Regions from separate parts of the Homo sapiens genome. Here all the other regions are reported to be linked to region 2. The links are microRNA targets in miRTarBase. Many come from high-throughput screens and were not tested one by one. Region 2 holds a microRNA gene; each other region holds the end of a gene's coding sequence.

Region 1 (7,431 bases), not on the chromosome of region 2:
GAACAACAAGGAGCAGGTGAGCAAGAATCATTGAATAGGATCGGGTACAGTGGCTGTAAACCCAGCACTTTGGGAGGCCAAGGCAGGTGGACTCTTTGAGTCCGGGAGTTCGAGACCAGCCTGGGCAACATGGTGAAACCATATCACTACAAAAAATACAAAAGATTAGCTGGGTATGGTGGTATGTGCCTGTAGTCCCAGCTACTCACCTGAGCCTAAAATGTCGAGGCTTCAGTGAGCTGTGATCACCTCACTGCACTCCAGCCTGGGTGACAGAGTGAGACCCTGTCTCAGATAAAAGGAGGGCAGCATAAAATAGCCTATGCTCATTATGCTATGCTAAGTGCAACTCTTAGACAAGAGGAATTGCTGACTGCTGTGGGCTCTGTGACTTGGCTGAATTGGGGTGGGAGGATTGGGGTTAGAGTAATGTTTCTCATAGTGTGTGTTTCACGAATACATGAATCAAAATCACCTGAAGGACTAATTTATAAATGCAGCTTCCCAGACCCACTGGATTAGAACCTTTGGGAGTGCCATGAAGTGACATTTTAAAAATAAGCTAGGCAGGTTGCAGTGACTCACACCTGTAATCCCAGCACTTTGGGAGGCCGAGGCGGGCGGATCACGAGGTCAGGAGGTCAAGACCATCCTGGCTAGCATGGTGAAACCCCATCTCTACTAAGAATACGAAAAATTGGCTGGGCGTTGTGGTGGGCGCCTGTGGTCCTAGCTACTCGGGAGGGCAAGGCAGGAGAATGGCGTGAACCTGCGAGGCGGAGCTTGCAGTGAGCTGAGATTGCACCACTGCACTCCAGCCTGGGCGACACAGCGATGCTGCAACTCAAAAAAAAAATATTAAAAATAAAAAATGAAAAAATAAAAATAAGCTCATGCCTGTATTCCTAGCGCTTTGGGAGACCGAGGCAGGAGGACTGCTTGAGGCAGAAGTTTGAGACCAGCCTGGGTAACATAGTAGGAACTTGTCTCTGTAAAAAATAAAAATAAGCAGCCCAGGTGATTCTAAGTACATTAAAGTGTATAAACCACTGTGTTCAAGAAAGGAATAATTTTAATGTCTGGGCTCCTCTACTTGGTTAAAGGTAAGGTTAAATGTGTTAACACTTCCTCCAACCATAGTCCATTCCAGGTGGGGGAAAGGAGTCCTGAATTCCTTATATAATCCCTGTCACTTGTCCTCTAGATACAGAAGATCATTGAGACACTGACACAGCAGCTTCAGGCAAAGGGAAAAGAACTAAATGAATTCCGGGAAAAGCACAACATTCGTCTCATGGGAGAAGATGAGAAGCCAGCAGCCAAGGAAAACTCAGAAGGGGCTGGGGCTAAGGCCAGCTCAGCTGGAGTGTTGGTCTCCTAGGGACCAAGGCCTTTGCATTTTTTTCTACCCTGACTCCCACTTCTAATTTCTCTTTATTGTTATTATTATTATTTTCTCTGCTATTGTAATATTTTTTTGTTAATTAAATGTTTTGGTCAGAATCTTAGCTGTAGCCTGAAGTTTTCTCCCACTTGGGGGTGGAAATTGTTTTGAGACACGGAACAGCATATGATGTGTGGTTTTTGTTTCCATCAGGTTAATGACTCATAATATGAGAGTAGGACCCATATTTATTTTATCCTTTCCTTGCAAATAAAGGTATGTCCACTTATTTACTGCCCTTCCCCCTCCCCCCAAAAATTTCAGAGACAAATCTTGAGTCTCAGATTGAAATTTAATAAGCATTTGAAGTGAAGCAGATAGCTCTGGTGATAACGCTTTATAGGTTTGCAACAAAGCAAAACAAAACGAGGCTTAGTGATGTGTCTTGGCACTATTTAGATAAAGTCCAGGATGCAAACCTGTGGACTGGCTGTCCTGCCATCCTCACCAAAACCCCCAACCAGGTAAAGCTGATCATTCCAAAGGCAGGTGCGATGGCCCATGCGTTTCATCCCACGATCTGCACAGGGGAAGTGGAACCACAAAGGAGGAGATGTGCCTGTTGGATACGGGCAGAGGGTGGTTATTGAGGCAGTAGCACTTTGTCATTCACAGAATTCAACATGACCAAGGGCTTGCCCATTGTTTTTCTGCTCACTTGATTTGTAGGCCTCTTCAAATGCTTAATATTCTGTGTACTCCTTTAACTCCTGTCAACTAATTTTTCCTCCTCCCTACCCCATCACTCCATCCTCTTTCTGTAGTCTTCAGGTTCCCCCATCTTCCCACCTTCCCCCCCTTCAGCCATTAGTCTGGCTCTCACGAGTATCATAGATGTAGAGATCATTGCAGATGGTGTCTCTAGCTCTGGTCAGAGTTTCTCCACCAAACAGCACAGCAAAGGGCCCGACCACAGAACATGAGTGATGCCGTAGTCCATGGGGCCCCTTCTGGGACCCCTGCCCACTGCTCACAAGCCTTGCAAGCTGTTCCATCAAATGAGGAGCAACAGGTGGTTCCTCCTTGGGGAGAAAGAAAGGACTGTCCGAAGAGACCTGGGCATCACAATTTTAGCCTCTTCCCATCCTAAACAAGATGTGTGAGGAGCTAATACCTTAATTTTCCCATGACTCCAATGCCCAGCTACTTCTGGTTCAGCTAAGTTGCAACCTCCAAAGAGCAATAGCTGATGACCTGGATGGGGTCCAGGAGTTTGGAGCAGGGCCGCACAGTGACCTGAGCGTGAGGCTGTGTGGCAGCCTTCTTGCTTGTAGCTGTGGACATGCAGAAATTCAGGGCTGAGTGGGTTTTCTGGAAAATGTAAGTGCCACCGCCCTTGCCAAGGATGGATGGAGAAGAGGCATGGGGCAGTGCGGTAGGTGGGATAAGAGGGAGGGTAATACTGTAGAGAGCTCAGCTAGCTTAAACATGGTAGGTTCCCCTGGAAGGAGGGTGCTAGAGTGAGGAGGTGGATAAATTGCCTGAGAAATCTGCTTAGGCTTTTGTTTTTCGAGAGTGTGGATGAGAGTGAAAGGTTTTGGGCGGAGGGTGCCATACCAATAGGTGCGGGCGCTGGGGTCCAGCCTTAATGTGTAGATGCTTCCATAGCGTCGCTGAGTGTGGATACCGCCCTCCCGGCCAGCCACCTGCAGCTCTCGGTCAGAGATTCGGGTGCAGGTGTGACTACTGAGGCCGGCGGGGGGGCAGTCACCAGGGGTCCCTGTCCACGCCTCCCACACACCGCGCTCTGTGTCCAGTGCGGTCACTGTGGCCAAGCGGCGAGACCCGTCCCAGCCGCCCACCACGCAGAGCCAACGCCCGTCCACGGGTGCCGCGTCGTGGTGACTGCGCGGGGGGCTGCCCCGGGCTCCCAATCGTACGGCCTGGCCCCTAGCTGGGTCGAAAACCACCGTATCGCTGCTGGGCTCTCTCGCTCCTCCTGCTAGGAGACCACCTACGAGATAGAACCGTCCCCGCAGTTCGGTGCATGAATGGAAAGCTCTAGCCAAAAGCGCGTCCCGCGCCACTGGCCTCCAGGCCCAGCCTGAGCCTGCGGCCCGACCCGGGGGCACGGCCACCGCCATGGGCCCCGGGGAGAGGGAGGGCGGTGGGGTCTGCGGCTTGGAACGAGCCCCTACATGGCAGGCCAGGCACCTCGCCTTCCGCGGGCTTCCCCGGGAACCTCCCCCTACCGGACGCCAGCCGGGGTTCCCACCTCAAGTCCCGGCTTTCTCTCCGTGGTCGCCCAGCAACCACTGCAGCGGCTGCAGCGCGACCGCTGCAAACCGAAGGTCGCAAAGCAGCAGTTACCGTGGAGACAGGACACCTGGGTGGCTATCGGGAACCGTATGGTGGTGCCACCAAGGCTACGGGAGCTGTATCAGGTCAATAAAAATCCTGCAAGATTGTTAACCTCAGAAAGTCGGAGGACAGTCGGGTCCTTAGAATAAACCCCTGTGATCTCCGCTGTGAACTGATTTGCGATTTTGACATTTGAGGTGCAGGTGCTGCTCCACTAGGGCCGGGAGGGATCATTTGGCTTCAGGGTTTCTTACTCGGGCTAACCACCCCAGGGATGAGCAAGGAAGGAGAAGCAAAAGTCAGAGGGTGGGGAAGTGAAAGTGGACTGACCACTGGCCCGAGAGACAGGAGACCTGGGTTCTAGTCCCAACTATGCCCCTGACCCTCAAAGGCATTGTTTCTCTCTAGGCCTTCTCAGTTTTGTCATTCATCAAATAGGCTGTTCGTTTATTCCCAAAGGCTTGAAGGTCCCGATTGATTGGGTGGGAGAGTCCTTTCAGCTCTGGCCACTAGAGGGTAGCAGAACCCAGTCTCTCAGGTGACACACACACACACACACACACACACACACACACACACACAGAGAGAGAGAGAGAGAGAGAGAGAGAGAGAGAGAGAGAGAGAGAGAGATAGAGAGAGAGAGAGAACCCACGCAGCCTTAGAAGGGTGAAGTGGGGGAAGAGTGAGAAAATGAGAAAAACAGACTCCTACCCTTCCCTGATATCTTTTATTTAAGCCAGTTTCCAGATATTAACTCTGTCCCCCAGGACCAAGTGATAACTGAAGAGGCCCAGATGCAAGCTTTCTGCTTTCAGCTGAAGGAGGAAATACAGACAGAATTTTCCTCCCAACACAGCTGGTGTGGGGCAAAAACAGGATCTGTGTCCTCTGGGACTGGGCTGTAAGTGGGAATGATGACTGCTACTTGTGGCCTTTGGTTTCTACACATCACCTTGCTCCCCATCATACCTGAGATACTGAGACCATAGAAAGTGGCCAGGCAGGAGAATCACTTGAGGCCAGGAGTTCAGGAGTTCAAGACCAGCCTGGGTAACATAGTGAGACCCTGGCGAAAGAAAGAAAGAAAAAAAGAAAAGAAATAAAGAAAGGAAGAAAGGAGACAGTGGCCAGGGCTGCAGTGAGGATGGGCATGTAATGCAGGGTCTGATAGCACAGCAGGGCTTTCCCCTCCTCTTCCCAACTCTTGGTCCTCAGAGAACACAGCATGGGGATGGCATGGGCAGGAAAGGCACAGTTACAGAGATTGGAAGATTACCAGGACCTGTTCCCCACCTGTACCTTAAAGCCAAGATTCAACAATAGCTTTGAAAGTCTCTGCCCTCCCAACTATAGCTTTCCCTGAGTATGACAGGCAGTATTCTCAGTTTTCCAAAATCATGGTAAGAATCTCTAAAAAATCACTAACTTTTACTGTCCTTGGCTGAAATTTAAAAGTCAGTCTTTTCCCTCAGGCTTCTTTCTCACTGGCTAACCTCCCAACAGCTGGATTCAGATCTGTCATACTCCTAGGATTAGGCAAGGGCTTGCCTCAGGGGTGGGGCAATTTTGCTTAAACCTTATTGGCCTATATGTCCATTTTAGGCTCTTGCTTTTGCCTAAGTCTTGGCTGTTCTGTTAGACTTACTTTCTGCCTTTCCTGGATAGAAATGGGAACTCCCCACCCCACGGGCCTTTCCAGCTCCTCTCTCCCAGCTTCCTCTCTGACTCTGAGTCCTTAGCAGTAGGCATCTTAGTTAGACATAGAGCTTGAACCTCACATACTCCTTGGCTGTACCCTCTCCAGTTCTGTACCTAGATGCTTCCAGTTCCTCCTAATAGCTGGAAGCATCTGTCCATTGCTTTGCCATCCCAAGACCCTGGGAGAGGAACTGCCTAGGACTCCTACCTTCTTAGGTTAGTTTGAACCAAATCCATATTTTGGAGGAGGGAGAAAAGAAGCCAGAAAGAGAGAAACAGAGAGAGGAAGAAAGCAAACCAGCCAACCTGGACTTGTATGACACATGCTTCACACCGCAGGACAGCATCTGCAGTGGTCTATAATGACCTTGTCAATGATACACAAACTGAAAGGGCATTAAGATAAGTGAAAGGGGGAACTGAGAGAAAATTGTGAGAGACAGGGAAAAGGGCAGCCAGGGCTGTGAACCTGCTTTCACCTGCTAATAATATCCAGGGACAACCTCTGTCCAGAAATGAGAGCAGGGACTGGATATCCTGAAAGTCTCGTAATCCTGATGTGATCCCCTGATGTTGGCTTTGTCTCAGTTGGCCAAGAGTCTATATGATCTCTAGCAAGCAAGCACCCAGCTTCCTACCTAGCCTTAGATGTCTATCCTAGCCCCAAATCTACGCCCCCTTGCCTCAAACTTTCACAAAGCTCTTACTCTATCTTCTCCCTTCCTTAACCCCATTTTCTGACCCTGGAACCATCTCTGGTTCTTAGCATTATTCGGTACATACAGAAAACCAACAATTGGGCTGGGTGTGGTGGCTCACGCCTATAATCCCAACACTTTGGGAAGCCAAGGTGGGTGGATCACTTGAGGCCAGGAGTTCAAGACCAGCCTGGCCAACATGGTGAAACCCCATCTCTACTAAAAATAAAAAATAAAAAATTCACCAGCCGTGGTGGTGCATGCCTGTAGTCCCAGCTACTCTGGAGGCTGAGGCAAGAGAATCGCTTGAACCTGGGAGGCTGAGGTTGCAGTGAGCCGCGATTGTGCCATTGCACTCCAGCCTGGGTGACTGAGAGAGAAAGAGAAAGAGAGAGAGAAAGAAAAGAAAGAGAGAGAGAAAGAAAAGAGAGAGCGAGAAAGAAAAGAGAGAGAGAAAGAAAAGAGAGCAAGAAAGAAAAGAGAGAGAGAGAAAGAAAAGAGAGAGAAAGACAGAAAGACAGAAGGAAGGAAGGAAAGAAAGAAAGAAGAAAGAAAGAAAGAAGGAAGGAAGGAAGGAAAGAAAGAAGGAAAGAAAGAAAGAAAGACCAACAATTGCACCAAACGGTCTTAATCGCACTCAAGACTCCCACAGTTCCCTCTGCCCATGTCTCCCAGGCTGTCCCCATCCTTCAGGCCCTTTCTTTGACTCTTCTTCTGCTGTACCCTGACCCTTCTCTATTTCTCACACAGCTCATTCTAGCTGCTTGACTTCCTGGCCCTATGCCATCCTGGCCCCATTTCTGACTCTTTGCTCTCAGCTCAGCCAGAATAAAGACAGGGACAAAAGGACAGAGAAATGACCAGGCAAAGAGACTGCATGAGGTCAGATCTTGAGAGCTCCTTTGACTGAATGTGAGCTAGAAGGAGATTGAGAGAAAGGTGAAATTGTAAGCAGGCTTTAGGGTGGAGGGGAGTGGTAATCAGCCAAGGTAGAGAATGATGGAGAGGTGGAATAAGGATGGGGAGAAGCTTATGTTGTTGAGGGAGTAGGCAATGTTGAGTAGGAAAGTATCATTGGGTCATTGCTGAGCGGTGGGAATTGAGGGCAGAAGACAGAAGGACTTTGAGTAATCATGGCATCCAGAAATTTCTCTTCGGGTCCTTCTGTCTCTGTTTCAGATTTTGTCTTGGCCACTTCAGCCACTTTGTCTCTTTGAATTCTCCCCCTTCAATAACTCGCGCGCGGGCGCGCGCGCGCATGTGTGTGTGTGTGTGTGTGTGTCTCCAATA
Region 2 (7,349 bases):
TTCTTGAGATAACTAGTACAACTTGGTTTCTGTCTGTTGGCATTTTGGTAATTAACTTACAAAAAGTTAGGCTAAATTTTTGAAACTAAGTCAGCATTATACACCAGTAACTTCTTACAAAATTGTCTCAATATTCCATTTAATTAAAGAGCTTATGTTCACTTCTCCCACCCTTTGTGAAAATTCTCCCAACCTGTCCCAATTCTCACCCAAATTTTAAATACCATTTACCAATCAATAGCAGTGGCAATGCAAAAGGCCCCTCTCCCTCCCAAAGCTGTATATCAAAGATATCAATACCAGATATTCTTCAATCCATTAAGTCTTCAGTAGAATGATGTGTTTAAGGTCTGAAATTATTGTAAAATGCAAAAGTGAAAACATTTGCAGCTAATGGTCCATGTGTTACATAACTCATTTACAGGTAACAGATAAAAGCTTTGGAAGCCAGTGTTCTCTCCAGGGATGCTTTCCTTCAGTAGGATTAACAATTTGACTAAAGTGTCCTTGTCATTTTTCTTTAGGGGTAAGGGCTCATTTCACCCTGAGCAACCCCAACTCAACCACACTGGGGAAACCATACCACAGGTAGCATTCACTAGTTTTAAGTAATATTTTGACATTTACTTCATGTTCTTCATTAATCAAAAGATCACTCTACGTCCCTCCCCAAACTAAATGTCACTCAACTCTACTTCCCTTAAAAGACATTATTCTGTTCATACTATTAATACTTACATGAATTCTAGAACTGCCCAACTGTTACTTTTATTATACACAAGCCTCTGACCTAAATTCAATAATTACATTCATGACTCCTTTCCTATATAGTTGTTCATCTGTTTTGAGGCAGGAAGATTGCTTGTGCCCAGAAGATGGAGGTTGCAGTGAGCCAAGATTATGCCACTGCACTCCAGCCTGGGAAAAACAGCAAGACACTGTCTCAAAAAACAAAACAAAACAAAACAAAAACAGTTTTCAAGCTTTCTGGACAGCTGGAGGTTAATAAGTAGTACTTCAGAAATATGAGCCGGGAACCATACTCTGCAGTTATTTTACATTATCTCCGATATTCTCAAACATCAAACTAAAGCTATTTTAGAGAAAGGAACCAAGTAACTCACTCAAAATTTCTCATAGGTAATGAGGAAAGCTCTGGCTGACTATAAGAAAAAAAAAATTGGATGACTAGGCTCTCATTTTGCTAAATTACCACGTTAATTATGAGCCCAACTACCACCCCTGCCAGCTTTCACTTATAAATGCTAGAAAAACACTTCACACAAAAAAATACATAAGATTACTATATTTCCTTTTAAGAGGAACGTTTCAACAAATTTTACAGGTGTCAATCAACCCTTGTTCAAATCGGGCACACATCAAATCTAGCATCATGGGTGTTTTATTTATTTGGAAGTGAATTTTAACTATCAATACAAATGCCAAGATACTACACAAAACATCCACAGGAACTTTTTTCATCTTTTTTTTTTTTGAATTGTACACAAACATTTCCTACATAATCCAACATACAACAGAGAAATGGTACATCTTTTTCTTTCAATTTGCATACAATGGAAAAACAAGTATATATATATTTTACAAAGTTTAACTAATAAGACACTAGAGCAAATTGACAGTTTAAGTCTATAGGTGAGAAATTATCTAATAAAAATAATCAATTTTTTCAGCATTAGTCACTTCCATAACCAAGTGTTATTCTGATTAATAAAACTTGCTGCCAATCAGAATTCTGGTATATACTCATACCATTACTCAACTTGTAGTACTGCTCCCCACCTTAGTTCTTCACAACTAACATAGAAAATTGTTGAAAAGTAGGGGCAAGCATTTGCAAAAACAAACAAAAAATCCCCAGCTTATTATAAGCATGAATATGTATGATGGAATTTCTTCCCAGCAATAGACTTCCAAACCATCAAGAAATCACCAGAACTAAGTTTGCCAAGTTATTTTGCCTATGTCCAACAAGAGATGCACTTATATGTCCAACAGAGGAGCTGAAAATTAAACTTAGTGTTTAGTTTGGGGGTGGGTTGGGAAATTCAGCCACCATTTTAAAATGACTGTCTTAAAAAAAAAATGACCACCAAAAATAGGTTCACTAAATTTATTTTAAAAATCATAAAACGTTTCTTACAAAAGAGCATTACATTCTGCACACTGCTCTGAACAGATGCCAGGGACATGTGGACTATTGTTACTTTTCCTCCCTGTCCCACCCCCCAAATGTTACAGTGACCACAAAGCAAGGTGTTCACAATAATTACATGGGGGGAATTTTTTAAACCACCAACAATAACGAAAAATAAAATCCACTCACTCTGCTGCTGTTTCAAAATTTCAATGTTAGTTTTTGCACGCCCTTCCCCCCCCCAACCCTGTTTGTAAGGAACTAAAACATTACATCTGGTGAACAGCAAAGATTTCACTACACCTCAAATGCAGAACACCTATGAAGCAGAGGAATGTTGGCTTTTTAAACAGAAGCAGATAAAAAAAAAAAGATGCAGGACTCCTTCAGTTCTTCACTAGTCTTAGAAAAACTTTCCAGAATACTGCTTCACACTATAAAAAAGAAAAAATATCTTGCATTAGAATCCTTCAACATCTGCATACTGCTTCACACTATAAAAGAAAAGAAAAAAAAGTGCGAATTAGAATTTTTGCTCGTAACATCTTAATCAACATCAAGACAATTTCAATGCTAAATTAAAATGATAAACACGTCCATTACAATTAGAAGAGTTCAAAAACCATTAGCAATTACAAATTAAAGCAATGTTAAGTGTCAAGAAAAATGATGAGTAGTAAATCGGACATTAGTAGAACAGAATTAAGAAAACGGAATTGAAAGTTGTTAATATTTGGTAGAAAAGACAAAGAATGCTAGTAAGGTGTGAAATGCTGCATTTTACAGCACCAATCATTTGTCCTGTAGAGGCATGGCCTGTGCCATATGGCAGACTGTGATTTGTTGTCGATTTAGTTATCTAAAAACAACAAAATCACTAGTCTTCCACACAGAACTAGGCCAACATCCAATGAATCTTCTATATTTTCTACAGGCTCTGTACAATTTTTAACAAGTGGTTTTGGCAGCAGTTTTCACCAGAGAAATGAGAAGTTTGCTTGGTTAAGGCTTCTTCCAGCAAGATTAGTATTGAATGTCTTCATTTTTAGTAAGAAAGCAGAAGAAAAATTAAGGCAAACTATTAGAATGTTTAGAAGTTAGGTCCCCAAAAGGTTGAGACACCATGGCTTCTAAAAGAAAAAAATCAATTGAGAAGAAAAGCTTTTTAAAGGTTTTAGTATGTATAAGCTAACACAAAGCTAAACTTAAACTGACCTGTTCTGCAGCAAATACTGTGCATTCTGTATCTGGTCCTGTGTTCCTGTAATGGTAATGATCCGATCTTCGGATCCTTCTAAAGGCTCATCAATTTTGATCGAAGCTCCCGACTCATGACGGATTTGTTTAATCCGCTGACCACCTTTGCCAATAATAGATCCAGCCAACTGAAAAGATTTTTTAAAAGTATGTGTTTACGATATACTTTTAACATTTACTACCTGTATTTTCAAGGAGCATGAAGTTATTAATTTTATTCATTCAGAATCTTAACTGATGATCTAACGCTCCCTAAACCTGTCAAGGTTTGAGTTATAATGTATTTATGTCACACTTACTAATGTTTCCCTTAGTTAGTTAAGGGCTCAAAACCTACTTAACTACTTTTATTAATAGCACTGATCACTTGACAAGACTCAAACAGCTGAAAACCCAGCTCACTAAAGCCCATTAACATAACCTCAATCCTAAATGTGTATTTTTGTTAAAACCTTCTGAATTAAAAAATATACAGAAAGGAGGAATAATCATAAAAGTGATAAAATGTTCCTGGTAGTATTAAAGATACTTACATCTTTGGGAATAGTTACTTGTGTAGTAATAATAGGTCCACCAAGATCACCATATGAGCCACGACCCCCTGCATAGGAATAATCTGATTTAAATAATGAGCAGTAAGTTCATTTAAAAAGTATGAAATTAATGTTTGACTTCACAAAGGAGAGAACTTACCATATCCGGAGCCACCCTAAAAACAGAAAGAAAAAAATAGAAAATTACTTTGCCGTTGTAATTACTACCGGTACTTTAAAAAAATTCATTTAATAAAATGGAGTCTTGCTATGTTGCCCAGGCTGGTCTCAAACTCTCGGGCTCAAGTGATCCTCCTGCCTCAGACTCTTTTGTAGTTGGGATTATGAGTGAGCACCACTGCACCCAGCTTCACTATTCAAGTATTTTAATCTCATAAAATCCCTCTTCAGGAAACCAAAGTCCTCCTGTATCCTATTTTCAGTAAGTATCCTCAGGGGAATAAAAAACTTACTGGAGAGCAGGTAAGCATCTTAAATTATCACTGATATACACACGAACAACTATGATACTCAACCTGTGGTTCATAAGCCATCTGCCATTCTGATGGGCTCCATGTATCTATTGCAGAGTCCCAAGTTTCATCAGCACTGAAACCAACCTGTTAGAGATAAAAACATTAACATGAACCCGCATTGTATTTTGTTATAGAGCTGTTTTTAATATGCCTAATTTGCATGTTACATTAAAACAAAAGAGGGTACATATATAGGCAGCAATTTTGTAATCGAGGGGAACAAAGCTCAATAAAGTCGTAATCCTCCAGCAGCAAATAACAGAATTATTTAACTAGTAATCCAAACAAAATTTACTTGTAAGAAAAACTTTTTAATCACTATAACCTTCAACAAAACGTGAACTACATTGTGACAACCCTCACATACCCAACACACTGGTAATAAACCAAAGTTCTTACCATGCCGTCGTAACGGTCTCCAGGTCTCCCTCTTCTGTCATAGGCCATGAGGTCTCTGCAAGCATAGTACTTGTTGTAATCTAAACGTGCTTACATGCCACACATATCAAATCAAAGTCTACCTTGTCTACCACTAAGTGCAGCCTCTTGCAGGTTAATAATTCATAGATGGGGGAAGAAAAAACAACAACAACAAAAAAAACAACTTACCCCCCTCTAGGTGGTGGTGGTGGAGGAAGAGGAAGATTCCGAGCTCTGCTACCACCCCGGCCGCCTCGTCCGGGAGGAGGGGGAGGTGGTCCTCGACGAGGGCTCATATCATCATAATCTCTTCTAGATGGAGGCATGGGACGCCCACCCCGACCAGGAGGCATTCTGTCAAAACCACCTCTTCCCCGCATGGGAAATCCCACTGGGCGTCCGCGACGGTCATCAAACATCATTGTAAAACCACCATAATCATAGGTTTCATCGTAAAAATTGGGATCATAAGGCTGTGCACGTCCTTTGATGGGAGACTAAAAACAGAGATGGAACAAACTTACAGACTGAAGAAAAAGAGTCCTGCTTCATACCAATCCTTCTAACATCATCATCAAACAAAATGTAAGTCATTCCCCCATCAGGAGGTACTAGAGACAGAAACAGGAATTATGTCAACGCTAAAAGTAGCAAAGTAAAGATTCCAAAGAAATCCAATACTTTTGGCAAATGCTAAACAAAAGTGAGTTCTATTGCCTATACAGGGAGAAGTAATAGCTTGCTCTTACACTTAGATCGTAAGAAACCACAAAGCCCTCCCATTTTACACATGACAAACTACAATGCACATTTCACAACAAGGGCTGAAGAGATCAGTCTTGGCAAGCCTGTAATCCATACTGAGGCACCTGAGATAGGAAGCCCTGCAGCATAGTTACAAAGACACAAGCAACACTATAGGAAATTCATTCAAAGGCTCAAAGGCTATAGAAATACCACCAACAAATTACCACTCTCCACTTTTTCAAAACCATTTTTAAATTAAAGTGATGGCTGAAGCCAGGTGATAGAAAATTGCTAGGGAAAGGGCAAATAAAGACTATTAGACTAAATGCTCTGAAGCTACTTTTGCAGAAGGTTATCACTTTGTTTCATAAAATCAAATGTAAACAAAAAGTGTTCTGAAGTACCTCAGATATAAGATCAAGGATGATCTTTATGCACTCTACAACCCTATCGGGTTTTCCTCCAATAAGAACAACTCTGTCAGTGGAATGAGGACAGCATTCCTGGAAAAGCTTGATGGTGGTTTGAGTGTTCTGTAGTAAGATCATAAAAAAAAATAATAATAATTAGAAGAAAATTAGCTTTCCTAGGTTCAGTGAAAATTGCATTTGAATTCAACAATTAACCCCCCACAATATAAAAACTTCATTAATTATCACAGGGCTTTGCAATGGTATAAAAATTTTGACAAAATAACATGTCTAGCAGTGCCAGACATTTTTTGTCATTTGCGATAAGCAATCTTTGGAGGGAACTGAGAGGGGAAGCGAGAGAAGCTCACAGAAACAAGTCTATATGAAAATTTACTTTCCAGCAAAGAATACGGCAGAATTTTTTTTTTTTTACCTCTCGAAGTTCTTTGATTTTAGCACCTTTGACCCCAATAATTCCTCCTGCTAGACTCTGATGAATCAACAGCCTCAACTCGCAGTCAAAGTCACTTCCTTTATAGTGTTGGTACTGTGGAGGGAGAATTATAAAATTTTAGTCTCAAATCAACAATTCCCCAATACACACTTATCTGCTATAAGCATAACAATAATATACTGTTGCAGTGAGCAACCTGAATTTATATTTCAATAACTTTACCAGTTATGTGCTTATTATCCTCAATAGCCAGGCCCAAAAAGGACATTCTGCACCACCTTAAAAAACTATTTTATTTTCAGGTCCTGCAACACCATACCCACACTGCAGCCATTTAGCATGTCGCTGTTACCACAAAATTATTATTAACATTCAAATAACACCATAATAAAAATGACTGCAAAGCACTTTGCAAATGTAGTTAATTCCCACTGCAGCATGGAGCAGGGTCAACAGTGAGTTGTAAGACCATTCATGTATCATGTTTTTAAGCCTTTTTCTATAGAGATGGGAAAAGCACACTATGTTAAAAATATAATCGATCCTATGGGCCAGGCTCCATACTTCAGTGGGGTTCAATGGCACTATGACATACATTTAAGCATTCCACAGCATCAGATTCGAGCGGGAGCTGGCTGGTTGCAGTGGGTGATGGCAACTGCAGGCCCTGAAAGTAGAAAAATAAGAGTAATAGGTTAAGTGTCTAGCGTGATCAGGCTATTGTCGCATATATTGGTAAAGCTACTACAACATATTTTAAATCTATATTATTAAATAATGAGAAACTGCTTTATTCAACATTAAGACGATTCAAAACATAAAATATTTTTCTCT
Region 3 (7,431 bases), not on the chromosome of region 2:
ATGGGCTGAAATTTCCTGGCTATGGTAGTGAGCTATTAATAGGAGATAGAGTTATGTCACGGGGGAGAGGTTATCAGGAAAATACCATTATATACCATCAGTGACCCATTCTAGAAGCCAAGGATTTGGCTCTGGGTTCTAAGAGGAACAGATCTCAGTGACCTTTATATAAGGTCACTGGACTTTAATACAAGGACCTTTATAAAGAGGGCCTGAGAGGGTGAAGAATTCAAACTGGGAAGCTATTTGTGATCCTGACGCTTGATTCTTAAAAATTGAGGGAGAGTTGCTGAGGATAAGTATGTACTGTCTTCTCACAGAACAATATGAATCTTTTGTGAAATTCACACATGATCAGATTATGCGACGGTATGGGACAAGGCCAACAAGCTGTAAGTATTGCCACATTTTCTTTGAATTTTCTAAGTTTCAAGAGCAAAATTTCTACACTGAAACTTCTCTCCTCAGAGTAAAAAGTCCCTGTGAAGTAAAATGTGCCCAGCACTATGCTAAGAGTATTAAATCCACACCAAAGCTTATATAAGCCTCACAGTGACCCTATGAGGGAGTACTATTATTAGCTCCATTTTACTGGTAAAGATAGCATTTAAAGAGGTTAAATAATTTGCCCAAGCTTATACAGCTAGTGGTTCAGCTAGGATTAAAATCTAGGTAGTCTGACTTGAGCACCAATTTGTTACCTGTCTTTTCTCCAGAAAGATAGTTTCAGTTGTTAATTTATGAAAGTTGATTCCTTAAGTTAGTTTATCAAGTGTGGTCAGGATTTCTTATTCTAAATAATTTGCAACTACCAGATATTCAAAGCATAAAATATTAACAGTTGTATATCTAACTGAATTTCAGTCAGGTTCCTTAAATTCTTGATCTTTAGTATCTTTTAAGTGGTGAGTCATCGTTCATGCTATTTCTCACATTTACTGTTAGTGAAAATTTTTAAAGCATGACACTACAGTTTTTAGTATTCTTACCCTTTTTGTTTTTTATTCTTAATTTACAGATGTGTCATGAAGCTTTGTCACATATCTGGGTACCAGGTTTGACCTCAAGAGATGGCTGCTGTACACTTTTTGCAACTGGTTTGATGTCACATTTCAGCTCCAACTTTGCATCCTGAGAACACTTAAACGTTTCTGCAGGTCCATTTTATACAACTTGAAAGACCGTAAAACTTTCTGGTTGCCACAAGCATATCTTTCTTTTCTGCTCATCCAATAAACAGCTGTGCCCTACTGTGATAGATTTTCCAAACAAAAATACCTGGAGCAGCAGTTTAGCAAAATATGCCTTCAGTGGCATTCAACAAATGGAGTTTCCCCAAGCACAGTTCTGTAAGAAGTGCGTGTGAGAGTGTGTGTATATGTGTGTATGTGTATTTTAAGTTATTATTTGTATTGTGCAAAAATTTTTTTTTGATCTTGGGGATTCTGGCTGTGAATTTGGTGCACGACAATTATGGTAAAAAAACATTTGCTTGGTCTAAAGAAGATCATTAATGTTTTGTGACCATACAAGTTGTAACAGTGGATTGTTTTTATGTGTAGGTATTGTTAAATACAGGGACTGTTTCCAGGCACAGAATATGAATCGTAAGTTAGGATGGACATTAGATGTGATTATGATGATAAAGCGAAGGTCTGCGGTCCTATATCTACAGACACGTGGTGAGAAATTAGAACAAACTGGAGACGGGCCATTGACACATGGACTCTGCCTGGGCATGTTAGGTTAATTCTTTGACTCCAAGCCTTAAAATACTCACATGGAGTCAGCGCTCACCTCATTCACACAATTATCATAGAGCTCCCTGGACACTGAACCTCTAAAGGGAAAAGGTCTACCCTGGAGCCAGGAGCATCAGGGTTGGCTTGGGAGCATGAGAGGTGAGCCCAGGGCTAGGCCTGGGCCAGGCCCCGGCAGCACTGCTACTTGGGAGGAGCCACTTCACCTTTGTATTAGTTATTAAAAAATATAATTTGGGCTGGGCGCAGTGGCTCACGCCTGTAATCCCAGCACTTTGGGAGTCCGAGGCATGCGGATCACTTGAGGTCAGGAGTTCGAGACCACCCTGGCCAATATGGTGAAACCCCATCTCTACTAAAAATACAACAAAGTTAGCCGGGCGTGGTGGCAGGCGTCTGTAATCCCAGCTGCTTGGGAGGCTGAGGCAGGAGAATCACTTGAACCCTGGAGGTGGCGGTTGCAGTGAGCACAGATCATGCCACTGCACTCCAGCCTGGGCAACAAAACGAGACTTCGTCTCAAAAAAAAAAAAAAAACATAGAATTTGGATCCTTTGGTCGGGTTCTCCCAAATTCTTTTGAGGTGTCCATGGTCAACTGCTTCAGCTTTGTTTTGGCAACCCCCTGCCCGAAGTCGCATATAGGCTGTTCTTCACCTTGTTTCCAAGGCTGAGGAACAGAAAGTAGCCTCTGTTTTGAGGAGGTGGAAGTTAAGTATACATTTATTTTTTACTGTGACTTGTTCAGGACCACATTTTACAAAATGCCTTGTTTCCTTCATTGTTTCTGGAAAGGAAAGTTCTATTAATATTGTTTTACTTTGAATATAGAATAGTTTTTTTAATTAGGGCTTATTTTGAAAAATTCTGAGTTTAATTCAAATGTATGCCAATACCTTCCAAAGTAAGGTAATATTCAGAGACAGTTGTTGTGATCAGATGGCTTAGAGAAATTTCTGGAATATTCACATTCGAAGATTCCTTATTAATGAATGTCTTTGACTTAAATCTAACCAAAAACTGCAACATTATTCTTTGTACATTTTCATTATATAGTGTTAACAAGCTTAGTTGCAAACAAATAAAATACTTAAGCTATTTGTTTACCTTGCCTTCTTAATACTGTGATAATGTTTATTAATTCAAATAACTTATGTGAGAGCTGCTATAACCATTTCCCCAGTTCAACATTGCATTGAAAATTTATGGACCTTTAAAAAAAAAAGCCCAACAGTGATTTTTTTTTAATAATTAAAGAATGATTTTACTTTGTATTTGAAGGGTGATTTGTTTCATCTCTTCTTTTTTCAGGGTAGTCACTTGTTCCTAAAAGAGGAACATAGCAGTGGCTGTAATGGGAATGGCTCTGCAGTGGGCTAGTCACACCAAAATAAAGAAAGGGCAGCTGTGGGAGCCATCAGAAGCTGTGGAGGCTGGACTGGTAATGGGGAATGCTGCCCCACTGAAGTCTTGTTTTAGAGATCAGTGTGATGTGCTCACTTAACTATAAAGTGTCAGTCCCCATTCCAACTAAGTGGCTCCTGGCTGGGAAGTAGAGTAGGTTTCTCTAAGGAAAATGACACCTGCTCACCACCCGCCCCACTATACCACATTGTTGTTAGGCTATCATATAATGATAAGGTAGCCCTCTGAGGCCACAAGGTAAGACCAAACCACCAGGGCTGGGTTTTGGGATCCCCTCTAAAGAGACCACACATGTTTGTTTAGTGTTTATAATCTAGAGAAAAGACAACTGGGACAGAAAATGGGGACCTGGAAGGTAGGTCTCAGACTGGTGAATGAATTTTTCCCTAGACCTTGATTTCCAGAGCTTGAATTTAAGGGCACTCCCAGGTAGAGAAATGTCTTTGTCCCATGGAAATTATAGACCAAGGAAGACGTCAACCTATAAAAACGTATAAGGGTTTCTCAGGAACAGTGTTTTCAGAATATCTGGTGAGCTAGCTAATTTTTTTCTCTATTTTAATTCCAGTTATTATCCTTGATAAAGTCTTAAGCTTAAGAGGAAAAAGTAAGTGTCCATCCTTGGGTCAGAAGTTAAAAGGAAGATCAGAGCTCCTAAGGCAGTGATAATTGTTAAGATCTTCCAAAGGGGAAGACCATCAGAGAGTACAAGAATTTAAGCCAGCGGGTGGCGCACGCCTGTAATCCCAGCACTTTGGAAGGCTGAGGGGCAGATCACCCGAGGTCTGGAGTTTGAGACCAGCTTGACCAACATGGTGAAACCCCATCTCTACTAAAATACAAAAATTAGCTGGGCGTAGTGGCGGGCGCCTGTAATCTCAGCTACTTGGAAGGCTGAGGCGGGAGAATCAACCTGAAACCATGAGGCGGAGGTTGCAGTGAGCCGAGATTGTGCCATTGCACTCCAGCCTGGCAACAGAGTTAAGACTATGTCTCAAAAAAAAAAAAGGATTTAAGCCAATCTTTCAAACCTGGTGAATCTTCTTACCATGGAGGATTGGTTGGCTAGCATAGTAAAGGACTGACTGCGTGGTTGTAGCTCTGTAGTTTGGTTTCTTCTCTGCCACTAATTTGGTTATGTCAGCCTTGCCAGATTACTAAACTTGCTGAAACATGGCTTGCTTACCTGTAAAATCGAGGTTAATAGTAGGTTCATATTGGGTTTTGTTTTCAAATGCAAGAAATCATCCATGTAAAGAAAGTATTTAGCACAGCTTAGGGCATAGACTATGCACTTTACAATGTTAGAGCAGGTTTCTTTATAGTAGTCTTCGTCAGACCTGGAGACCCAAACTTTTGTGTCCCAAGTAGTGATTCTCAGCTTTCCAATATGAATAGCCCCTTGTTAACATAAAGATCTCACTTTTTCTTATTAGAATTTGTACCTTTGTTTGATTAAGGAAATAAAAGATGAATGACAAATGAATTTGGTAATGCCTTTCTGTGAATCTGTATTCAGTATGTTTTGTATGTTAATATAGCAGGGTCATACAAAAACTGGCCTATTTTTGTAAAGTTTTGTAGAAACACTGCTACACCTATTCATTTGTCTGTGGCAGTTTTCACACTAACTCCAGACTTGAGTAGAGTAGGTGCTACAAAGACCAAAGCATGGGCCACAGAGCTGAAAATACTTACTCTGTGTCCTTTTACAGAAAAGTGTGCTGGCCTTTGCACTAAAGCATGAAGAAACATTTGGGAAAAAGCACACAGGCTGGGCACGGTGGCCCATGCCTGTAATCCCAGCACTTTGGGAGGCCGAGGCGGGCAGATCACCTGAGAATGGGAGTTCAAGACCAGCCTGGCCAACATGGAGAAATCCCATCTCTACTAAAAATGCAAAATTAGCCGGGCGTGGTGGTGCATTCCTGTAATCCCAGCTACTTGGAAGGCTGAGGCAGGAGAATCACTTGAACTTGGGAGGTGGAGGTTGAGGTGAGCCGAGATCACACCATTGCACTCCAGCCTGGGCAACAAGAGCAAAACTCTGTCTCAATTAAAAAAAAGAAAAAAGAGCAACAAACAAGGCAAAGTTACTTCATTTATAATCCTTGTTGCATCATGAGTTGGTCAACACTTACCCTAATTTGTCATTCTTAAGGCTGTTATACCTTAAGTTGAGGTGTGATGAAAATACCCTTTTTGCTTACAAATAAAAACTGATTGCCAAAGTAAGTATGTCACAGAAAAAGCTATTGAACAACTGTTTAGAGCAATGATTCTCAAGGATGGGGACACAGAGCATACTATTTGGGGAGGGAAAAAGATTTGAAATGACCAATTTTATTTCAAGCATTTTTAATTTTGGAATTTTAGGTACAAAAATGGGTGTGAGAATTTTGTTTAACAGAAAATAGCATGGCTTTAAAATAGTTTGTAAAATACTGTTCTTAAGGAACAGAGTGTAATAGTGCCCATGGGCTATTAAAAAGGAACAGAAACTTCTCTACTACTCTGGAGTCCTTTGTTGAAAACAGATTGAGGGAGTGCTGTAGTCTTCCAGAGCTACAGTTAAACTGGATAAGGTTGGACACCTGGAAAAAAGCGTACATTAACCCACCCTAAACCATACTTTTTTTTTTTCTTTTTTTTGAGATGAAGTTTCATTCTTGTTGCCCAGGCTGGAATGCACTGGTGCAATCTCGGCTCACTGCAACTTCCGTCTCCCGGGTTCAAGTGATTCTCCTGCCTCAGCCTCCCAAGTAAGTGGGATTACAGGCATGCACCACCACGCCCAGCTAATTTTGTATTTTTAGTAGAGACGGGGTTTTACCATGTTGGTTGGGTGGGTCTTGAACTTCTGACCTCGTGATCCACTCGCCTTAGCCTCCCAAAGTGCTGGGATTACAGGTGTGAGCCACCGCACCTGGCCACCAAACCATACTTTCAAGTAAATAATTAGCACTTTATTGTACTGAAGGTGTGATATTTTGACAATTTAAAGTTCTGGTCTTCATGGGTCTTTGTTTCGTTTTACTTATTGCTGTATCTAATATCTCCTTTTTTTTTTTCTTTTTTGAGACAGAGTCTCAGTCTGTCACCCAGGCTGGAGTGCAGTGGCGCAATTTCAGCTCACCGCATCCTCCGCCGCCTGGGTTCAAGCAGTTCTGCCTCAGTCTCCTGAATAGCTTGGATTACAGGCGCCCGCCACCACGCCTGGCTATTGTATTTTTCAATAGAGAAGGGGTTTCATCATATTGGCCAGACTGGTCTCAAACTTCTGACCTCGTGATCCACCCGCCTCAACCTCTGAAAGAGCTGGGATTACAGACGTGAGCCACCGCGCCCTGTGTAGTATCTCATTTTATGCCTGGTTATCTGTGAGCTGGACAGTATATTTGAAAAATTACGGTGGGCATGGTGGCTCAGGCTGGGTGCGGTAGCTCACGCCTGTAATCCCAGCACTTTCGGAGGCCAAGGTGGGCAGATCATGAGGTCAGAAGTTTGAGACCAGCCTGGCCAATATAATGAAACCCCGTCTCTACTAAAAATACAAAAAATCAGCCGGGCGTGGTGGCGGGCGCCTGTAATCCCAGCTACTAGGGAGGCTGAGCCAGGAGAATCACTTGAACCCAGGAGGAGGAGGTTGCAGTGATTCAAGATTGCATACCATTGCACTCCAGCCTAGGCAACAAGCAAATCTCCATCTCAAAAAAAAAAAAAATTATTATTTGCAGGAGTGAACAGGACAAGAATGAGGGTATCTATCTCTAAGAAGGATTTATGTTGCCTGTGGCTGAGGATACTACCAAATCATCTGATGCAGGTTTCAGAAGGCTGAAAGTACCTCAGGTCATCCAGATTAAATATAACCTGGTGGCAAGTCCACTTGAGAACTGGTTTACTTTTTTTGTTTGGTTTTGTTGTTGTTTTTTGAGACGGAGTCTCACTCTTGTCACCCAGGCTGGAGTGCGGTGGCACGATCTCGGCTCACTACAATCTCTGCCTCCCGGGTTCAAAGGATTCCCCTGCCTCAGCCTCCGGAATAGCTAGGATTACAGGCATGTGCCATCAAGCACAGCTAATTTTTGTATTTTTAATAGAGACAGGGTTTCACCATGTTGGCCAGGCTGGTCTTGAACTCCTGACGTCAGGTGATCTGCCTGCCTCGGCCTCCCAAAGTACTGAGATTACAGGAGTGAGCCACCACGCCTGGCCGAGAAATGGTTTACTTTTGATTCACCTTT
Region 4 (7,431 bases), not on the chromosome of region 2:
TTAACATAACTTTTTAAATAGTTAAAACTTTATCATTCAACAAAAATTAGAAATTTTGAGCGATGCCAAGTAATATATACAGGCATTCAAAAGAATGGACACTCTTTCTCCCTTTACTGCTGACTTCTTATTCAGTGGCCTCATTTAAAAAATAGCAATATATATATACAAATATATGTGTATATGTGTGTATATAAGTGTACAAAAGGCATTATAGTAGTCTGTAAGAAATTATATGATCATTTAACATGTTGATGTAAAAAATTAATGACAAATTTATGATATATTACTAAGAAAGGTTGTAAAACAGTATGTAAATGAATTGTGGTTTTGTTTTTATAAAAATACGTATAGAGGCATATAAAAGACAAAATCTAGTTATCAATGGAAGGTTAGTAGTGGTTATCTTAGTTTGGTGGAATGATTAGGGATATTCCTTTTCTTCTTTGTGCTTTTCAAGCTTTCCAAGATTTCTTTAATCAATATCTACCACTTTTGTATTGAGAAACTAGCTTAGTTTTTAGAGAGATGAAATAGCCCAAGTCTGAAACCAATAAAGAAAACCTTTCAATTTTTTTATGACTATCCCTTCCTTTTAGTTTCTGTATGTTGATTTCCCAAGTTTAGAATAATAGAAAGAGTCCTAAACTAGAAATCTAAATGCCTGCCTCCCTATTTTTTAAATTCAGTAATTTCTACCTCCCCATCTTCCAGAAAGGCTCTGGGTTTCAAAACTCGCTTTACCCCACTGTTTCCTTCTGTATACTGTTAACCTCTGTGAACTTCTGTTTCCCTAGTATAAACCCCACCCGTCAAAAGTGATAAACTCTTTCCCTTTCATTTACCAATCGCACATGTTCAATTTAATGCTCATATAAGACAATAGATTTGAAAGTGTCTTGTAAACTCTAAAACACCAAATGTGAAAGGATCCTTACTAGCAGGTATCCTTGCGTAGTTCTGTTTCTGTGATTTTTGTTTTGTTTTGTTTTTTGTTTTTGTATTTCACGACTAGCGCTTGTGTCTATCTCTCTCTCTCTTTTTTTTTTTCTCACTATTTTCGTATAGGGTAAGACACCTCAAGAAAGAGCACAGCAGGCTGGGGACCCAGACTTGGCTGCTTACCTAGAAAGCCGTCAGAACTATAAGGTCATTGGCCATGAGGACCTGGAAACTGCTGTTTGACCCTGGTATTCGGGCAAAGAGGACATGAGCAAGCGTATCACATCTGCCCTCCCTGCAATTGGGCAGCTCCCCTGGAAGAAGCTGATGGAATTCATATATCTGTCTCTCTCCTGCAAGAATCTACCTGAGACCATGCCACTAGCTTTTAAGGGCTACCAAGATGTACAACAGAACATGATAGCCCATTGAGAAGGAGGCAGGATACCTGGAGATTTGTGGAATACAGTACGAGTTCCACAAAATTTGATCCTTATTGCTTCCAGCAAGTAGCATGAACTTCTGTGTTCACCTGTATAATTTATTTTAAAGATTCAAAGGATGTTCGTATAAATGGCACTGCTCCATCCTCCCCCTATGCATTGGTTTTTTTCCCTGTACCATACAATTCTACTGTAACTACCCATCAACTTAAAGAAAAATATTATCTCTTCTCTTTACATTCAGTCTTGGAAGACCACAAGATTGTCTGAAGGCCTTCTAAAACCTTCTGAATGTCCTGCAGAAATATAACTGTAAAACCACTTCCATTTCTAAGACTAAATATATCAAGACTATTTAGTGACTCTCTCTGCATGTCCCCCTCACCCGCCAACCCTCCGTTTCATTATATAGGAGCTGGGAAGTGCCACATGGATAATGTCAACTTGTGTGCTATATCTCTGAGGAATGGTGAGGTGGCATGGGAGATGTCTGTGCTTGGAGGTACCTCAGAGAGGTAACCCAGGGGTCAGCCCAGGCTGCTGGGCTGTAGCCAATAGCCATGCAGGACTGGTTCAGCTTGGGCTGTCTGTACAGCTCCGTACTGCCTATGTGTAGCCATCTTTGCCTTTTGCTGCAATAGAAGATGAGCAAAGGATTAAACAGAGGCCCACAGCTAGTTTGCAGAACCACTCAATTTTAAGTGCTGTTTAAATTGCAGAGCAAATAATCCTGTGTGGGAACTGTGGTTACAGGAAATGGAGCACTCTAACAATGTTTACTTCTAAACTTTGTTGAATGATAATAGAAAGCACCCTAATTGACTTGGAAAAAAAAAACAGCAAAAGCAAAAGTAGCAACATATGTCAACATATGTCACTGAAATAGGAAACAGTCATTGGAATGTTGCACAGAGGCTAATAACTATAGACTGTTGGATACAGTGGTGAGAGGAGCCCCATTTTAGGTCTTTCTTTTAGGTTTTTGGTTTTCATTACTCCAAGTAATCCTTGACCCAAGAACAAAGGCTTGTTGTATGAGTTCCACTGCCAGATTTATGGGATGCCTGGATCATTCAGAAGGATGCTTCAACTATTATTTGTCAGGTCCAAAGGTCGTACTTAATAACCCCATTTTCTATGTATGGGGTAGTCTAATATATTATTTTATCTACTTTATTTTTCCCTTTTCAGAAAGTCCTTAGTGCAAACCACCATTGGAATCTAGCCAGAAATGTCTGTCAGATAGTTAGAATTGTAACATCTAAACCTGCCACGGATCGAATGGTACTTACAGGTACCTCTCTTAGGGACTCTGTGATCCCTAAAATATCAGAAGAAAATGTCTGTCTTTCTGTCCAAATATCTACTTGACTTGGGGGTAAGTCAAAAATAAAAGTAGGTGTCCAAGGATTTTACTTTTGGCGAAATCTGACGTCTCCTGAGCTTATTTTCATTTTGTCCTTGGACATAGCATAGTGCTTCCCTAATGTTTCTACATATGACCATGAATGATAGTGTCTCTACATTTAATTTAAAAGTCTAATGGTGACATTTTGCTTATCTGAGTCACATTTCGGTAACATATCATCATTTTGAAAGTGCGGCTATGACGTGCTATATTAAACAGGAACAGCCTTTCAGTGGATGGGGATTTTATTACCACAGTCTTTCCATAGTCATTTCAAAATCAAATTGTTGGTGGGAGGATGGATTGGGTTGTGAGTAATCTACTTCCATATATCAGCCTCAGAAATGGAACTATCCTTTGGATATTACAGGAGACACTGCAGCAGATTGTTTCCAGAAGCTGGAAAAATATGCTCCAGGAGAATTTAATCACTGGGCTTTTGCTGGGGGATTTTTAGTTGGCGGGACTGTCAAGGAAATGTGATGACAGAAATATAATCCTTAACACAAACTGGAATCTGGCTTTGAATGGCATCTTCCATTCCCTGGATTGAGTCAAATGTTTGGCCAAGCAGTCAGTTATCTAGCTGTTACTGTTGGGATGAAGAACTCTGTTTTCATCAACTACCATCTCACATTTCTCTAAATACTTCCAAGTAGCCCAGAGAAAATTTAGGGTACAGGTGGCTATGGGCCAATTTCTAAATAGCTCCAATTGAAGACATAAATCTGTGTTATGAAAAATGATGAGTTGGTACTGTAAGATTCCTGATGCATTTGGAAATTTTTTCAAACCAAAAAAAAAAAAGGCATTAGAGTCCTGTGTTATTCATGGAGACCAATATTTGATATATCGCTTTGAAAAAAGCAAGTACCACTAGGACTTGGGATTTCCAAAATAAAGTGAGCAGAATAACCACATGTTTAATGGCTTCAACATTAAACCACCTCCTGTAGCATGTTTTAAAAATTGGTCCTGGGCTTTGGAAAGAGCTAAGGCCTTATGGTCTAGGAGTTTCCATCTCAGCTTAAGTATATTGTATCCCTACTATTAGGACATCAGGAAAGCAAGTGATCTAGTCCTGGTCTGAAGTGCCATGTAACTTTAACAGACATAAAAATATGTACCTATAGAAATATCATTTCTACAAAGCCTACTGAGACAGCACTGAAGAGGCAGCTAGCTTGGCTGACTCCTCTGTGTTTGTTTCTTTGTGTCATGGCACTGACTGCTTTGAGATTCCATTTTTAGATGTGGTTGATAGAGGAATGGAAAATGAAGAGTTATTAAAAGACAACATTCTGTAACCTGAAAGGTAGTCATTTTTGCAAGCTTATATTTTAATATTGTGCATTTAACAAAATAGAACACAGTTAAACTGTGCTTTATCGTATTCAAGGACTTCATAAAGAATAAGAGAGAAGATTAGTAAGCCAAGAATGGAATAAATACCATGACTAGGAATTTTGCTTTCAGAGCTTATGTTTCCTCTGTAGATGTGATAACCAAAAACCAGTGCAAGTTTTGAAACATAATTTAGCTGGCAAATGCACAGTGATGGAAATTAGTAATGACTGATGGAGAGCCGTACATACCTGTTGCTCCTTATCCTTTCAGAATGGCTGCTTTGGCAGATCTGCCTGTGCTGGGAGCTACTCAACATCACTTCATTTTCATCTGGACCTAGTGAGAGTCCCTTTGCCTAACGAATTTCTGAAATTTATTTATTTACTAGACCCCTTATAATATTCATGGCTTTAAAAAATGACACAGCATCTTTATTTTATTACATGTCAATTTTATTAATAATATTTAGGGGTTTTTTTAAATTATAAAAATGGCACATGCTTTTTATAAAATGTTTTAATACCACAGATGAGTATCACATCCACAGTCAAGGCATCCCTTTGTTCTGGTGTTGTGTCCCACTTCCCAAAAATAAATACGGTTAACACTGATGAACACTGTTGCTTGTATGTGATGTCAGAAATACCCCATCCGTTCATGCACAAGTATGTATGTATATACGCATATACATTTACACACATATATAGACATTTATTTATATACACATGCAAGTATGTATACTATATTCATGTATATTGCATAGGTTTAGAAAAGAGCAAACATTTTAAAAGCATGCTGATCATTTGTATATGTCTAGTGAACACCAGTAGGCAAAGACAGGTTAAACAGAGAAGTTCCATTTATTTTTTTGTTTCCACCATTGCTAGGCTTAGATCTGTTATGGCATTACTACAATTGCACTTAGCATTTTCTATTACCTGTGTCATAAAATTCATGACCAAGAGTTCCTGTAATTGTTTATGTTGCCTTCCATGAAGCATGAAACCTACCATAGCCCCAAGACTTATCTATGCTATGTTTGTATTTCAAGTAAAGGAGAGTTCTTTCCTCTGTGATGCTTACACCACTTTACAAGGCTGTTTGTAACACTAACACTCAGTAGGTTGCCTAGTGATATTTAATTAGGGCAGGCTACTTCCGGGAAGGTGTAACTTCAGTGTAGTATGGGGGTCTGAGCAGCTTGTCTTCCTTCCAGAAGGAGTAGCTAATGAAATCACTGAGAACAGCATATTTTATTCAATTATGCTATTTAAAAATGGGACTTTGTTAAAATGGCTCATCATAACCATCAAATAAAACTACTAATTGTTCTATTTAAATGAATTATATTCATTTTAGGAAAAGAAGTAGAAAAACATCTAATAAATTAGCTTTCTGATTAATCTTTAACACTTATTTAATATAAAATGGCTTCTGCCTGCATCTTAATTGAACCACCTTTGAATCTCTCAACTCCTTTCACTCTGAATCTCATACTCAGCTGATTAGAAGTCCTACAGGTCCTTCTCTGCCAGGTCTGTCAGATCGACTTGGACCCTACCCTTTTCTGTGTCCCCAGTCATCCATTATCTCTTGTCTCTCTAAGTTTTGGGCCATAGCGGCAGTCCTGTCCCTGAACTTTCTGCCTACTACTGTCAATAATTTTGTCACGCAGTTGCAAAAATCTTCCCCAGATATTATGCTCAAAATACATCAAAATGAAATTACCCTCTGGGACAAGTATACCTTTTACTCAAAGGACACATGGATGTCCACTGACCTTGATCATCTTATAGAATTATGGCAAGCATGATTCTGAAAATCTATCAGGTTTAGCAAATATCTGTCTTAGTCCCATGAGGGTACACAATCACGGCTGCTGCTTCCTCATTCAACAATGTAAGCCACATGCCTCTTTGACGGCACCTGGAGGACTAGGTTATAGATTTTACACTGCTGAGGGCCATCTTTGGTTTTACACTGTCTCCTCACAGCTTAATGAGAAACCTGAAAATAAGAACCAAGAAAAGAGTCATGCCCTTGGACAACCTCCTCTCCCAGGACACTGAGATTTACTGACCAGGTCCCAGAAAGAAAGCAGAAAAATAATTCTTAGGCTCTTGTAGCATGGATTTTAAAATAGAAACGTGAAAATTGAATGGTATCTTCATAATGCATAGACTCCAGAGTCTATTTACATATGTATTCAGTTATGCATGTAATCATATGTCCATGAATCAATCATAAGTGCATGTATTTAATCATTATTTGAAAAATATTTGTCACTCTGAGGCAGGCATCATACTAAGGATATAACAATGAATGTAATAGACAAAACTCTTGATTTCATGAAGCTGGCATCTAGAAGAAAAGACAAATTCCAATGTGATAAGTGCAGTGCAGGAGAACCCCAGGGTGTCCAGCATGGGCTGGAAATTCAACCAAGGCTTTATTGTACCAGCCACTCATTAGCCAGCAATGTTTTGGTTCAATGAAAACATAAGTAGGAAGAGAATAATATTTTGCATTTCCATTTTACTGGAGTCATAGTAGATTTCTAAAAATGTATCTGAAACTAAGATTTTAAAACAAGACTTAGAAACACTATTAAAATGAAAGCTAAGACTGATTTATTCTAGCTCTCAGGATAGAACTAGGAAAAATAAGCAGAGTTTTCAGTGGGTTTTGACTAAATATAAAGAAGATGAAGTACAAATAATATGTAATAGTGGAGTGGATATCACAGTTATAAACTTTCAGCCTCTGTTAGCATTTAAACAGAGGATACCTGACCACTCTGAGGGGTGTTGTGATTAGGAATATGTGATTTGAGGGGGCTAAAATTAGATGCTGTGATTTTTCAAAAGATATTTTTTAATGGCTTTGTTGAATGGCAGGATTTTATTTTAAAAACTCATGAAAATCTTGATTTTTGATTTGTTAAACTTTGCTTTATAACTGAGAATTTTAAAAATATCTAGGGGAATGGCCGTTAGTTATCATTTAAAAAATTTTAAACTAAGCATGAATTTAAGAGCTAGTCAAAAGAAAACATACTAAAAGGTGTAATTTAATTAAAAATACTTCTGGAAGCTTATAAATTTTGATCAGTATTCTTAGTCATTGTCAAGTAAAATTCTATTAGAAATCTGTCTTACTGTCCATCCAATATAAAAAAGTGCTGTGGTTTGATATTCTAAGAGTTAAGTGTAATCTAGTATAACCACAGAAGAAAATTCTGCCTGTAAGGTATTTGGGAGCCAAGTAAATGTACATGAAAGGCAATCATGG

What was found. Region 2 holds the annotated microRNA hsa-miR-7-1-3p (CAACAAAUCACAGUCUGCCAUA, at 2,980-3,001, opposite strand). A microRNA usually pairs through its seed, bases 2 to 8, with sites in the 3' UTR of a target mRNA and lowers its output. Matches are read on the target gene's strand: a 7mer-m8 pairs with bases 2 to 8, a 7mer-A1 pairs with bases 2 to 7 and ends in A, and an 8mer does both.
Region 1: the mRNA of PFDN2 is a reported target of hsa-miR-7-1-3p. Seed matches in the 3' UTR shown: 7mer-A1 at 1,477-1,483.
Region 3: miRTarBase lists AKIRIN1 as a target of hsa-miR-7-1-3p. Seed matches in the 3' UTR shown: 7mer-m8 at 2,857-2,863.
Region 4: miRTarBase lists DGKI as a target of hsa-miR-7-1-3p. Seed matches in the 3' UTR shown: 7mer-A1 at 5,424-5,430 and 8mer at 7,076-7,083.

What each region holds. Positions count from the first base shown.
Region 1 is chr1:161,094,633-161,102,063 of GRCh38, reverse strand. PFDN2 (prefoldin subunit 2) reads left to right here. Exons shown (of 4, transcript NM_012394.4): 3 at 1-16; 4 at 1,205-1,503. The coding sequence ends at 1,381. KLHDC9 (kelch domain containing 9) reads right to left here and starts at 3,703. Exons shown (of 4, transcript NM_152366.5): 1 at 3,002-3,703; 2 at 2,559-2,718; 3 at 2,268-2,466; 4 at 1,718-2,003. The coding sequence starts at 3,528. The coding sequence ends at 1,840. RefSeq lists silencers at 3,280-3,329, 3,390-3,569.
Region 2 is chr9:83,966,792-83,974,140 of GRCh38, forward strand. It overlaps MIR7-1 (microRNA 7-1), which reads right to left and starts at 3,066; the gene lies at 2,957-3,066. It overlaps HNRNPK (heterogeneous nuclear ribonucleoprotein K), which reads right to left. Exons shown (of 17, transcript NM_031263.4): 8 at 7,111-7,182; 9 at 6,495-6,608; 10 at 6,053-6,181; 11 at 5,091-5,398; 12 at 4,881-4,935; 13 at 4,482-4,565; 14 at 4,106-4,121; 15 at 3,946-4,028; 16 at 3,371-3,540; 17 at 1,292-2,649. The coding sequence ends at 2,616. It overlaps HNRNPK-AS1 (HNRNPK antisense RNA 1), which reads left to right and starts at 5,304. Exons shown (of 2, transcript NR_186535.1): 1 at 5,304-5,486.
Region 3 is chr1:39,003,027-39,010,457 of GRCh38, forward strand. AKIRIN1 (akirin 1) reads left to right here. Exons shown (of 5, transcript NM_024595.3): 4 at 321-392; 5 at 1,019-3,033. The coding sequence ends at 1,029. Among named protein-coding and RNA genes, the nearest start is that of AKIRIN1, 15 kb to the left of the region's middle.
Region 4 is chr7:137,384,974-137,392,404 of GRCh38, reverse strand. It overlaps DGKI (diacylglycerol kinase iota), which reads left to right. Exons shown (of 33, transcript NM_001321708.2): 33 at 1,069-7,431. The coding sequence ends at 1,185. Among named protein-coding and RNA genes, the nearest start is that of PTN, 45 kb to the right of the region's middle.